3 linked regions of the Homo sapiens genome follow. The protein of the gene in region 2 purifies or fractionates together with the protein of the main gene of each other region. This does not show direct contact. Each region holds a gene or a part of one and is shown on either strand. Other genes may lie near its edges.

Evidence for each region. The genes of interacting proteins can lie anywhere in the genome.
Region 1: the proteins of DCAF12 (region 2) and ZZEF1 purify together in Homo sapiens (affinity purification with mass spectrometry; one large-scale study listed by BioGRID and IntAct). This does not show direct contact.
Region 3: the proteins of DCAF12 (region 2) and TUBA3C purify together in Homo sapiens (affinity purification with mass spectrometry, with the first as the bait; 2 studies listed by BioGRID). This does not show direct contact.

Annotation. Positions count from the first base shown.
Region 1 is NC_000017.11:4,017,531-4,021,030, forward strand, and holds part of ZZEF1 (zinc finger ZZ-type and EF-hand domain-containing protein 1), read right to left. Parts: intron 2,240-3,500; coding exon 2,139-2,239; intron 442-2,138; coding exon 306-441; intron 201-305; coding exon 1-200. UniProt on the Homo sapiens protein: Histone H3 reader which may act as a transcriptional coactivator for KLF6 and KLF9 transcription factors.
Region 2 is NC_000009.12:34,088,074-34,092,992, reverse strand, and holds part of DCAF12 (DDB1- and CUL4-associated factor 12), read left to right. Parts: intron 1-3,402; coding exon 3,403-3,581; intron 3,582-4,484; coding exon 4,485-4,643; 3' UTR 4,644-4,919. UniProt on the Homo sapiens protein: Substrate-recognition component of a DCX (DDB1-CUL4-X-box) E3 ubiquitin-protein ligase complex of the DesCEND (destruction via C-end degrons) pathway, which recognizes a C-degron located at the extreme C terminus of target proteins, leading to their ubiquitination and degradation.
Region 3 is NC_000013.11:19,179,025-19,183,294, forward strand, and holds the start of TUBA3C (tubulin alpha-3C chain), read right to left. Parts: upstream 2,801-4,270; 5' UTR 2,724-2,800; coding exon 2,721-2,723; intron 540-2,720; coding exon 317-539; intron 1-316. UniProt on the Homo sapiens protein: Tubulin is the major constituent of microtubules, a cylinder consisting of laterally associated linear protofilaments composed of alpha- and beta-tubulin heterodimers.

The DNA.
Region 1 (3,500 bases), on a different chromosome or scaffold from region 2:
GTGGCCTCGTTCACTCGGAAGAGGTAGTCCCGGACAGCCCTCTTACTCTTGCAGTTCAGCTCCTTGTGCAGGAGGGCGGCGCTCTTGCTACGGCGCTGCTTGGCATAGCTCTGCTGCAGTTCGCTCTCTGTGCTGGAGATCAGCTTCTGGGTCACAGGGTTCGATTCAGCAGTGGCTTGGTCACAGCGTGCAGGCCGGGACTGCAAACCCAAGACCACCATTACAGAGGTCTAGCCTTCTTACAGTGGTGGTATGGGGTGGGGGATGGGGTGCAGATACTTTGGGTCCGAGGTCGGGTGACATACCAAGCATGGCAGGATAATCATGTCTGTATCCACAGCTTTGGCGCTCTGTTCTTCCAGCCTCAGACTCTTACTGGGCTGCCACCGCTGAGCCAGGGACCGTATCCTTTCATCTGTGGTGAGCTCATCACCATCAAACCTGCAGAAGGGCAGCACAAAGTTGAGTACCAACAGTGTAGACAGGCCAGTTTTAACCTGCACTTAAACTTGTTGGCAATGTTCTTCAGAGTTGTTCTTCTGTTAGTATCAATGACATTATCATATTCCGTGTTTTGCCAACTGGATTCACAGCCTTCACTTATGCATGGATACAGAATGCATGTATGCTCTGTGGCAGGAGATGCAAACTCTCCTGCAAAATCCATTCTCCTTTTCTATCTTTTCCATTTTTAAAATTAATTTAAATGTTTTATTTTCATTAAAAAAACATTTTTAAAAAAAATTTATTTGTTTTTTTTAGAGATGACGTGTTGGAGCTATGTTGCCCGGGCCGGCCTGGAACTCCTGGGCTCAAGCGATCCTCCTGCCTGCCTCAGCCTCCCTAGTAGCTGCGATTACAGGCTCATACCACCATGCCTGGACTCCCCTTCTCTCCTTTTTTTTTTAAATTTAACAGAGTTTAAATGAGCAAAGAGTGATCCCCGAATTGGGCAGCTCCTGAATCAGAATGGGTTCAGAGTGACTCCACTGCTGTGGTTGGAGGTTTACGAACAGAAAAAGGAAACTGACACACAGAAAACAGAAGTGAGGTACAGAAACAGCTGGAATGGTTACAGCCTGGTGTTTGCCTTATTTGAACGCAGTCTGAACAGGTGGACGACTCTGGCCGAAACTCGGTGGCCCTTCTCTCTCTCTAAAGCTCCCTGAGTTTTAGCAAGAGCCACAGTCACCCAGCTAGAGACATGGTTAGCAGCTAGATGTGCTGATGCCCCTGGGTTCTGGGCAGTGCAGGTGAGCGAGGTGGTGTGCCACCTCTGGAGTCTACTGGACTAATGGTGCACTCCCTTCTCCACCTCCCCTCTTTCCTCTGGGCTAGAACCGAGAGGTGGGGTGGCCGAGGGAGCTTTCACTCCACAAATGAGAACGCTGGGATTGCTGGGTCCCTCTGTGGAGCAGAGCTGTCACCCACCCCAGACTCTGCCTACCTCTGGACTGTTATGTGAGAGAAAAACAAATTCTATCTGCCCTGATCCATTATATTTCTGGTTTCTTAGTTACCGCAGCTTAGACTGTACCCTAACTAATGCAACCCTGCTTCACCTCATAAAGGCTTTTAGGCAATATATAAGAAACTAATAAAAGAGAAACACGAAACACAAAATAAAAGAAAAATTAAATGAGAATTTACAATGAGTAAGAAGTCAAAATTAGGATACGGGGGATGGAGGAGACTGGATTGCAGATATGTAAAGTTCTACGCAAATTAAAAAGTTGGGCCCAAAAACTAGCTCTGAACTTCCTGGCCAAGAGAAAGGGAATGTTCTTAATTTTAAAAATATCTTGAGCAGAAGTTCCTGCTCTGTGCTGTCTGCTCCCTGGGATTACACATGAGAGACATCTTGGTGCCTGCCCAATTTCTGTGTCTGTAAAATGAGTTTCCTCTCAGAGGCCGACTACAAACATAAGTTTTAAAGAGGAACCACAGTGCACTTTGAAGATGATCCAGGTAACGTAGCACAGGCCACCTCCCACCTCGCCTTACAAAGGACTAGCAACTGCTTCCCGGCCTGTCGGAGCGTCGATCGATCCAGAAGCTGCTGCCAGGAGGCGCACACCCTCCCGCCCTCACATATTCTCTCCCTGGCCACACTTCAGCTGCACGGAAATGTCCCTTACCTCTTCTGAACCTCCAGGAAGAAATAATCGGTCTTTTTCATCTGCAGTTCGTATATGGCCCGGAGAATGTGCAGAGGGGCATTGAGGGCATCATGAGCCATCTGGAGGCCAGGGGAGGACGCAGACAAGAACCATTAACAGTGCTTCAATACGGTATTGATCAACTGAACTCAAAACTGAGAAGACAATATAGCAAAAGCTGCCACAGGTTATAATTGAGGAACATTATATGGGTAGTTTAAAAAGCATATAAAATTGTAAGCACCAAAACATGGACTATAACACCTACACTACGACTGTAACTTCAAAGGAAATTATAAAACACTAAAACCCCAAAGAAATATCCTGTCAACAAAATACAATGCTGACAGTAGATACTTACCACATCGTATTCACGGCTAGCGTCTCTATAACTGTTTTACACTCAAGTTTGACAACTAGCGCATACATAGGCACTGTATTTTCTTTTGATTTTTTTTGACACAGGGTCTCACTTGGTTGCCCAGGCTGGAGTGCAGTGGTGTGATCATAGCTCATACCACTGAGTACCCAAAAGCGTAGAAAGGCAAGAGGAGTTTTAACCTGCACTTAAACTTGTCAGCAATGTTGATCAAAGTAGTTTTTCTGTTAGTATCAATGACATCATCATTTTCTGTATTTTGCCAACTGGATTCATAGCTTTTACTTATTCATGGATACAGAATTGCATGTATGCTCTGTGCCAGGGGATGCAAACTCTCCTGCAAAATCTGTAAACTTGAACTCCTGGCCTCAAGTGATCCTCCTGCCTCAGCCTCCTGGGTAGCCAGGACTACAGGCGCATGCCACACCTGGCTAGTCTTATTTTTTGTAGAGGCAGGGTCTTGCTAAGTTACCCAGGGTGGTCTTGAACTCCTGGCCTCAAGTGATCCTCCTGCCTCAGCCTCCCAAAGTGCTGGGATTACTAGTGTGAGCCACTGTGCCTGGCTGGGATTTGCTTTTTCTGACATTCTACGCTACATTCTGTTTACTCTTCATTTAGTCACAACTTCTGAAGTCCAAGCCCTCATCCTTTTCATATTGTTCTGAGGAAGAATAGATTACCTAGTAAAGGTAAGAGTGTATTTCTGAGAAACTATGAGGAAGGAACTATCGTATAGAGTTCATGGACGAGCCTTAGGGCTTTAGTAAGCCCTTGAAATTCGTGCAAAATTTTACATACATGTTTGAATGTGTATTTTATGGGGAGAGAGGACCTAAAGCTTTTGAGTTTATAACCCAAAATATTAAGAACTATTGTTGTGGGGCTTTTCTGTTCTTCTGGATCAATTCTGCACAACATAAGACTGAGTCTTTAGGAAGTGAATTCTCAGGACAGCAGAC
Region 2 (4,919 bases):
ATGCCTGTAATCCCAGCTGCTCAGGAGGCTGAGGCAGGAGAATTGCTTGAACCTGGGAGGCGGAGGTTGCGGTGAGCTGAGATCGCACCATTGCACTCCAGCCTGGGCAATGAGCGCGAAATTCTGTCTCAAAAAAAAAGGGGTGTGGGGGGAGTGACACAAAAGGGCACTAGACTTTCAAACACCACAGACAAATGTGTGGCCACAGAAGCCTTTGTTGGGAGCCACCAGTCAGGATATTAGTTAGTAGTTTCCATGTTCTTTTAGAAAGCTCTACTTTTTTTTTGTTGTTGTTGTTTTTTTTTTTTGAGACAGAGTCTCGCTCTTTTGCCAGGCTGGAGTGTAGTGGCGTGATCTCAGCTCACTGCAACCTCTGCCTTCTGAGTTCAAGTGATTCTCCTGCCTCAGCCTCGCGAGTAGGTGGGACTACAGGCACACACCACCACGCCCAGCTAATTTTTGTATTTTTAGTAGAGACGGGGTTTCACCATGTTGGCCAGGATGGCCTTGATCTCTTGACCTTGTGATCCACCCACCTCGGCCTTCCAAAGTGCTGAGATTACAGGCGTGAGCCACTGCACCTGGCCGAGAGCCCTACTTTCTATCCTGTGGTAATTTTTTTGCTGTGGTCCTGCCTGAACTAAAATTCTATTTATGCTAAGATGTGGCATGGTGGGATAAGGAGGAAGTTTACAAAGGGCATGAGGAAACCTCAGGGTAATGAGTATGTTCATTATGTAGATTGTGGTTATGATGTCATGGATATATACATATGTCAGAACCTCAAATTGTATACTTTATGTGTCGTATATTGTATGACAAACCTCAATAAGGCTGAAGAAAATACTGAGTTTAGTTCTGACCACTGAGTAAATTAAGCTTCCACCTCAAATCTTTTATAACATATTCTCTGTAAGAGCACCCTCATTCTTTATTGAAGAGGGAAAAAATACTTATTTTAGTGTACTTTGAAGGTTTCAAAATACCTTTTTCTGACATGCCATTTCATCATACCAAGAACCCTGTGGGAAGCAGATGAGAAAACATAGTTTTACATATAAGACCTAGAGCCAGCTAAATAACTTGCCCAGCATCACACAGCTTGATGGGGGAACAGCTAGGGACCAGAATCCAACTTAACAAATTGTATTTTCTTTATCTCACTTTATCCCATTTCTCGCTTTATCCCATTTCTCATGCAAAAATATGGCTGTGTTATCCTGAGAGTCCTAAAAGGCACACTGTGGATTGCAGTTCACCCTCTCTTTTTCAAGTAGTGTTTATTCCTGTGCAGATACTGCAAAGTAGCTTTTGTTTTGGGTTTTTTGTGGTTTTTTTTTTTTTTTTTTTTTTGAAGACAGGGTCCTCACTCTATCAGCCAGGCTGGAGGAAAGTGGTGCAATCTCAGTTCACTGCAGCTTTTCCACCTGCCAGGCTCAAGCAGTCCTCCCACCTCAGCCTCCCGAGTAGCTGGGACTATAAGCGTCCGCCACCTCATTCAGCTAATTTTTGTATTTTTGTAGAGACAGGTTCTCATCATGTTGCCCAGAGTTGTCTCAAACTCTTGGGACACCCACCTCAGCCTCCCAAAGTGTGTGCTAAGATTACAGGGATTACAGCCGTGAGCCACTGTGCCCAGCTATTTCTTTTTTGTTGTTGTTGTTGTTGAGATGAGTCTTGCTCTGTCACCTAGGCTGGAGTGGAGTGGTGTGATCTCAGCTCACTGCACCCTCTGCCTCCCAGGTTCAAGCGATTCTCCTGCCTTAGCCTCCTGAGTAGCTGGGACTACAGGCGCGTACCACCATGCCCAGCTAATTTTTGTGTTTTTAGTAGAGATGGAGTTTCACCATGTTGGCCAGACTGGTTTTGAACTCCTGACCTCAAGTGATCCACTCACCTTGGGCCTCCCAAAGTACTGGGATTACAGGCTTGAGCCACCACGCCTGGCCTATTTGTTCTTAATTATAGTTAAAATGCTTACATTTTAGAACAAAGAATAATGTATAATGAGAGTAGTAGAGAAAGGAATAAATAGGGCCGGGCACGGTGGCTGATGCCTGTAATCCCAGCACTTTGGGAGCCTGAGGCAGGTGGATCACCTGAGGTCAGGAGTTCGAGACCAGCCTGATCAACATGGTGAAACCCTGTCTCTACTAAAAATACAAACAAAATTAGCTGGGGGTGGTAGCGGGTGCCTGTAGTTCCAGCTACTTGGGAGGCTGAGGCAGGAGAATCACTTGAATCTGGGAGGTGGAGGTTGCAGTGAGCCAAGATTGTGCCACAGTACTCCAGCTTTGGCAACAGAGCTCAAAAAAAAAGAGAAAAGACTAAATAGGTTTGGCTCTAATAATGTATGCAATGAAAAGTTTTAAGAGATTTTTGGTACTGTTTAATGGGGGTAACTTTCATACCTAATAAGGAAATACTGGTTCCACAAATATTATCCAGTTCTTATGTGCCAAGAGACATCTTCATATCCCAAGCACTGATTTGATCCCCAAGTACAGCAGATGTGTTTTCCTTGTGATCTAAAGTAATTACATGACTTGTCTTAAACATCTTTGGGTATTTAAGTTCTGGGCTTTTTGCCACTCTCAAAACACCTAATACTAGATAAAGACTTCTTGCATTGTGGCCGGGCACAGTGGCTCATGCCTATAATCCCAGCACTTTGGGAGGCCAAGGTGGATCACTTGAGGTCAGGAGTTCAAGACCAGCCTGGCCAACATGGTGAAACCCTGTCTCTCCTGAAAATGCAAGAATTAGCTGAGTGTGATGGCAGGAGCCTGTAATCCCAGCTACTTGGGAGGCTAAGGCAGGAGAATCGCTTGAACCCGGAAGGCAGAGGTTGCAGCGAGCCAAGATCGCGCCATTGCACTCCAGCCTGGGCGACAGAGCGAGACTCCATCTCAAAAAATAAAAAAAGACTTCTTGCATTTGCCACAGTAGTGGTTTTAGGTGAAATATAAGGAATCGTTGATGACTTAATGATTTATAAATATGCAGATTACCTTGAGTTGCAGTGTAGGTTGGAAACATATGATGGAGAAAAGCTTAGAGTTATGAAAGATGATCCCAGAGTGAGTTGAGAGGAAGCAAGGAAGTTCTCAGCACTTATGGTCTTCGGCCAAAAGCATCTTGAGCATCATCGGGAATCTGACACTTTTCCAAGGCTTCTTGGATGGTTTCTGTCAGTGTGTGGATAGGCAGGATGGCATCAGGATTCTCTTTGCTTTTGCATGAGCTAACTTGCCATTGGGAAAACACTGTCTGATACTTTGTGGGGCGGGTGGAGGGGAGCAGGGTGGACGTTGAAAACTCAGTGTTGGAGAAATTCAGGCTAGCAGACAGTCAGCAAATATTCTCTCCCGCCTCACTGCCTTTTACTTTTCTGTCTTTCAGGAATCCGGTCAGTGAGTTTCTACGAGCACATCATCACTGTGGGAACAGGGCAGGGCTCCCTGCTGTTCTATGACATCCGAGCTCAGAGATTTCTGGAAGAGAGGCTCTCAGCTTGTTATGGGTCCAAGCCCAGACTAGCAGGGGAGAATCTGAAACTAACCACTGGCAAAGGCTGGCTGGTGCGTAAGCCCCTACCTGAGATGACTGCTACACAGTAACAGAAAAATTATCTTCCTCTATCTCTCAGCCCCCACTGACACACCATCTACTCATACTTTTTCACTAGTAAGAGGCACTCATTGGAACAGGAAAAGACTTCCCCCGATTTTGCTTTTATGTCTGCACGTTGCCTGTGGGAAAACTGAGGCCCAGTAAAACACACTGGTTGACTTAGGATTTTCCCCAAGGTGTAATAGAGCAAGAAGGATAAGGGACCTCCCACCACAGCTGTCAGTGAATTTTTTTTTTTTTTTTTTTTTTGAGACAGGGTCACTCTGTTGCCCAGGCTGGAGTGTAGTGGTGTGATCATAGCTTACTGTATGTAGCCTTGAACTCCTGGGCTCAAGCAGTCCTCCTGCCTCAGCCTCCCAAGTAGCTGGGACCACAGGCATATGCACTGTGCCCGGCTAATTTATTTTTTTTTAGTAGAGATGGGGTCTCGCCATGTTGCCCAGGCTGGTCTCAAACTCCTGGGCTCAAGTGATTCTCTCACCTTGGCCTCCTAAAATTCTGGGATTACAGCCATGAACCACTGCGCCCCACCTCCAGTGAATTATTCAAGTGTTTGGTTCTTCCTCCTGTGCCTAGCAGGTGGAGGGAAAACAGAACTTTGGTTCTAAGTCTCCTGAGAAGAACTGAGCCTTGTATAGCAATTCTTCAGCTGCTCCGTTCTTCTCTAACGTTTAGTTGGAAAAATGAGGCCCTGATTCCCATGAGAACCAACCAGCCAATCTCCTGACATGAGGTTGTACCTGTAGAACCCTGTTCCCTTAAGGAGACCAGAAAGCATTCCTGTCCCTTCCTCCCCCTTTTCCTGCCCCATGGCTAGAGGTGCTAATTGTAGTCTCTTTCTCTTCCCGTAGAATCATGATGAAACCTGGAGGAATTACTTTTCAGACATTGACTTCTTCCCCAATGCTGTTTACACCCACTGCTACGACTCGTCTGGAACGAAACTCTTTGTGGCAGGAGGTCCCCTCCCTTCAGGGCTCCATGGAAACTATGCTGGGCTCTGGAGTTAATGACAACTCCCCAAATGCAGAGATTTACACTAACTTCCATTCTCAGTTTCCTTGTTTCTTTTGATTTTTTTTTTCCTAATTGTGTGAGGCTCTTGTGTTTTAGTGGGAACACCAAAGTTTGCCTATAGTTTAGGCACTTAATAGGAAGAAGCTCTGTACAGAAATCTGAAAGTTGTTTTGCTTTTTGTTTTCCCCTTTGGTAATCAAAATTTTACTATCTTTTATTATTTCTGGCTTTTCAACCAAACATTGTTGCTAATCCCTATTTTTCTTTAA
Region 3 (4,270 bases), on a different chromosome or scaffold from region 2:
GGAGGAAACCAATGCCATTGTGCCCTGCAGGCAGGGCCACCTGAACAGGGCTGAGGCAGCCACGACGGAATCTCTCCACAGCCCATCTTACTGTTGGCAAAGCAGCTTTTCCCTGTAGGCCAGGTTTTCCTAACTTAGGAGCCGAATCTCACAGACACTTTAATCACGAACCTTTCAGTTTCTGTTAACACCATGGGAATATGCTTGTCTATCTCATACCTTCTGCAGGAGGATTCAAAGGAGCCCACATGGGGCCTTACCGACGATGCTCTCCCACCCTCCTAAGAAAGCTGCCATCCAGGACCCGAGCACCTACCGACCACAGTGGGCTCCAGGTCCACAAACACTGCTCTGGGCACGTGCTTGCCAGCTCCAGTCTCACTGAAGAACGTGTTGAAGGAGTCGTCCCCACCACCAATGGTTTTATCACTTGGCATCTGACCATCGGGCTGAATTCCATGTTCCAGGCAGTACAGTTCCCAGCAGGCATTGCCGATCTGGACTCCTGCCTGCCCCACGTGGATAGAGATACACTCACGCTGTGAACCAGAACATAAATGTAGACCCATTCATTTCAAGGCAACTTGAAGCTATATGGTATGCAAAATATTATAATTTAATATTTATATACTGCTTCAGTATCTGGTGCTTTCACAATTGATATTTCCTAGGAGGGTTAGGTGACTGACCCCTTTATCCCTGTGAAAACTTACTTGCTCTACACCATCCCAGCTGCTAAGTTCCAGAGGTAGCCCTAGAACCTAATGTTTGCCACTACACAAAAATTAGATTATTTTAAAACTTGGAAGCCATGTAATGTCAGTAATCAAACCCACATTATAGCCAGTCACAGTAATTCTCTGAAGAATACATAGCAGTTTTTGATTATGTCCTACCAAAGGATAAGGTAATGGGGTTGGGTAAGGAAATAGAGAGTAGGTCCCAGGTCACTGTGGTCCAAGCCCAGGTGTTCAGTATGTGTCCTCTCTCTGCACCCCCAGATCTACCCTCCATCATTCACCACCCGCCCTGTGCTCTCCGAGGCTGACCCATGAGGACAGCATCAGAGGCCTTCCTTGCTCTCTGGCTTCGTGCTGGTTTGTTCAATGACAGGCAGCCGCAGGAGACCAGGAGGCTGGAGGAGAGTGGCGTCAGGGTACTCTCCCCTTGGCCCCTTCCTGCTCACCTTTCATGGGCGATACAAATCCCTCCATCAAGGCCACACTTTTGGCAGGTGGCCCTCTTCATAAAGTTACCCTCTCAATTTTTCGTAAGCACTCCCTCCCCTCTACCCCTTGAAGCCTAGGAGTGTAATGGCTCCCAGATGTCATCAGTGCTGGGACACTGCACTGTCCTTGGTGGTTTCTTTAAGCCCTGACAAGCCGGATGTGGTGGCTCATGCCTGTAATTCCAGCACTTTGGGAGGCTGAGCTGAGATCGCTTGGGACCAGTTTGAGACCAGCCTGGGCAACTATGAAAAAAAATTTTTTTTTTTTAAACAGAGTCTTGCTCTGTCACCCAGGCTGGAATGCAGTGGCACAATCTCAGCTCACTGCAGCCTCTGCCTCCCGGGTTCAAGCAATTCTCCTGCCTCAGTCTCCCACGTAGCTGGGACTACAGGCCACTATGCCCAACTAATTTTTTGTATTTTTAGTAGAGATGGGGTTTCACCGTGTTAGCCAGGATGGTCTCGATCTCCTGACCTTTTGATATGCCCGCCTTGGCCTCCCAAAGTGCTGGGATTACAGGCGTGAGCCACAGCGCCCGGCCGAAAAATTTAAACATTAGCCAGCTGTGGCAGCACACACCTGTAGTCCCAGCTACTCAGGAGGCTGAGGCAGGAGGATTGCTGGAGCCCAGGGGTTCAAGGCTGCAGGGAGCCGTGATCGTGCAACTGTGCTCCAGCCTGGGCAACAGAGCTGTTGTTGAGCCGTTTCAAAAAAAAAAAAAAAAAGATACTTGACAAACCACGGCCACTGCTATTCAGACTTGGGACTTAGAAATCTATTCTTTATGTGAATGCGTTGGTTGCTTTTTTTTTTTTTTGAGGCAGGGTCTCTCTCTGTCGCACAAGCTGGAGTGCAGTGGCACCATCATGACTCACTGCGGCCTCGAAGTCCTGGGCTCAGCTGACCCTCCCACCTCAGCCTCCCGAGTAGCTGGAACCACAGATCCACGCCTCCACCCCGGGAATTTTTCTATTTTTAGTAGAGAAGGGATTTCGCCATATTGGCCAGGCTAGTGAGGAGCCCCTGACCTCAGGGGATTCCCCGCCTCCAACTCCCGTCTGAGCTTTAATTCCTGATCTGACCAATGTCCACAGCCCTTGCCTCCATCAACAAGGCTCCTGGGGCTCCTCAGTGGTTTCCAATAGGACAGAGACATTTGGAGACCGGAAAGCGGGAGCAGCGCCCTTCTGTCTTCAGGAGGCGGCACCACTGTTTGCTCTCTGGGGGACAGGACACGGTCAATGCTCCCCGTCCACTGACTCAAGGCCGGCAGCTTCGTCTAAAACAAAAGCTGCCATCCCTGCCCTGGAGCCCGCAGACCCAGCAGACGATGCCGTGTCCTCGTGTCCCGCCCTGGGCCCCGCATCCTTCTCTGACCTCCTTTCTGCACCCTGGCCCGCAACAGCATCCCTCCATCCAGCCACCTCAGGAGGCCAACTTCGTCCACCCTCCAGCCTGGGCGTCTGCGGGGTGGGAGTGACCTGGCCTTACCATGTTGAGCTCCTCCGCTGCCGCAGCCCAACGCTACTACTTGACCTCAACCGCCGCTGCAGCTGCGCACGCCCAACGACAGCCTCCCGCCGTGCGCTGTCTGGGATTGGCCTGCTGGTGCCAGGCCACCATTGGTCCGGACGTCCTGGGAGGCGGGCCAAGGCTCGGATCCTAGTTTTGATTGGCCGTTGTGCAAACCACGTAGTGGGGACGCCCTCTGATTGGATGCAGGATTGGCGGGAAGGCAGCAGGCTCAGAGAGGGCCCTCTGACTGGATGCAGGACTGGCGGGAAGGCAGTGGGGTCAGAGGGCAGTGCGTGGGCTGAGACGTTTCCGGGGGTCCTCTGACCGGGGATGGAGCAGCTACTGCGTCTTTATAGGTGGAGGAACATTGCTTTGTAAGTAAGCTCCCAGCCTTGCAGTGGCTTGACCACGAACTTGTGCCGCTGCCTCCTCCCCAGTTGCCCCAGACCGGTTCCTCTGGAGGTGCCTTATTCAGATCTTTGCAAACATGGCCGCCTTTGAGAGGCCTTCACGGCATCTACCCAAGTCACAGCAGCACAGCAATCACCCCACCTTCCCACCCAGCACCCGGGAAGTGGCGGGATTCGATCACTTTTGTGATCTGAAAGGAAAAAGTGAGTGGGTTTCTGTGGCTCACGTCTGTAATCCCATCACTTCGGAGGCAGAGGCGGGCAGATCACCTGAAGTCAGGAGTTGGAGACCAACCTGGCCAACATGGTGAAATCCCGTCTCTACTAAAAATACAAAAACTATCCGGGTATGGTGGGCGTGCCTGTAATCCCAGCTACTCGGGAGGCTGAGGCTGGGGAATTGCTTGAACCCGGGAGGCAGAGGTTGCAGTTAGCCGAGATCGCACTGCAGCCTGGGCGAGACTCCGTCTTAAAAAAAAAAAGAAAAGAAAAGAAAAGAAGAAGCAGAGGTAAAATTAATATAGGTGGAGAGGTTGGGCTGGGCGCAGTGCCTCAGGCCTGTAATTCCAGTGCTTTGGGAGGCCTCCGCCGGAGGATTGCTTGAGGTCAGGAGTTTGCAACCAGCCTGGGCAACGTGGTGAGACCCGTCCTGCCCCCGTTTCTACAAAAAATAAAAAATGAATAAAATTAGCCGGACATGGTGATGGGTGCCTGTAATCCCAGCTACTCGGGAGGCTGAGGCACAAGAATCGCTTGAATCCGGGAGGTGGAGGTTGCAGTGAGCCGAGATTGTGCCACTGCACTCCAGCCTGGGTGACAGAGGGAGATTCCGTCTCACAAAAAATAAAAAACTAAAAAAAAATACAGTTTATTTGGGCCAAGTTTGCGAACTGCAACCTTGGAGATGCAAGTTGCCTTAATATACACTCTAATTAGCAGCAGTTACAAATGGGTTTTTAAAGGAAAAGAAGGGGCAGTTTCTAAATTGTTTACCAAGAATTTTACAAATAGAGACAGAGTCTTGCTGTGTTGCCCAGCCTGGTCTTGAACTCCTGGCCGGAAGGGAGCCTCCCACCTTGGCTGGCCTGGCCAGAGGAATGTATATTAAAATAACAT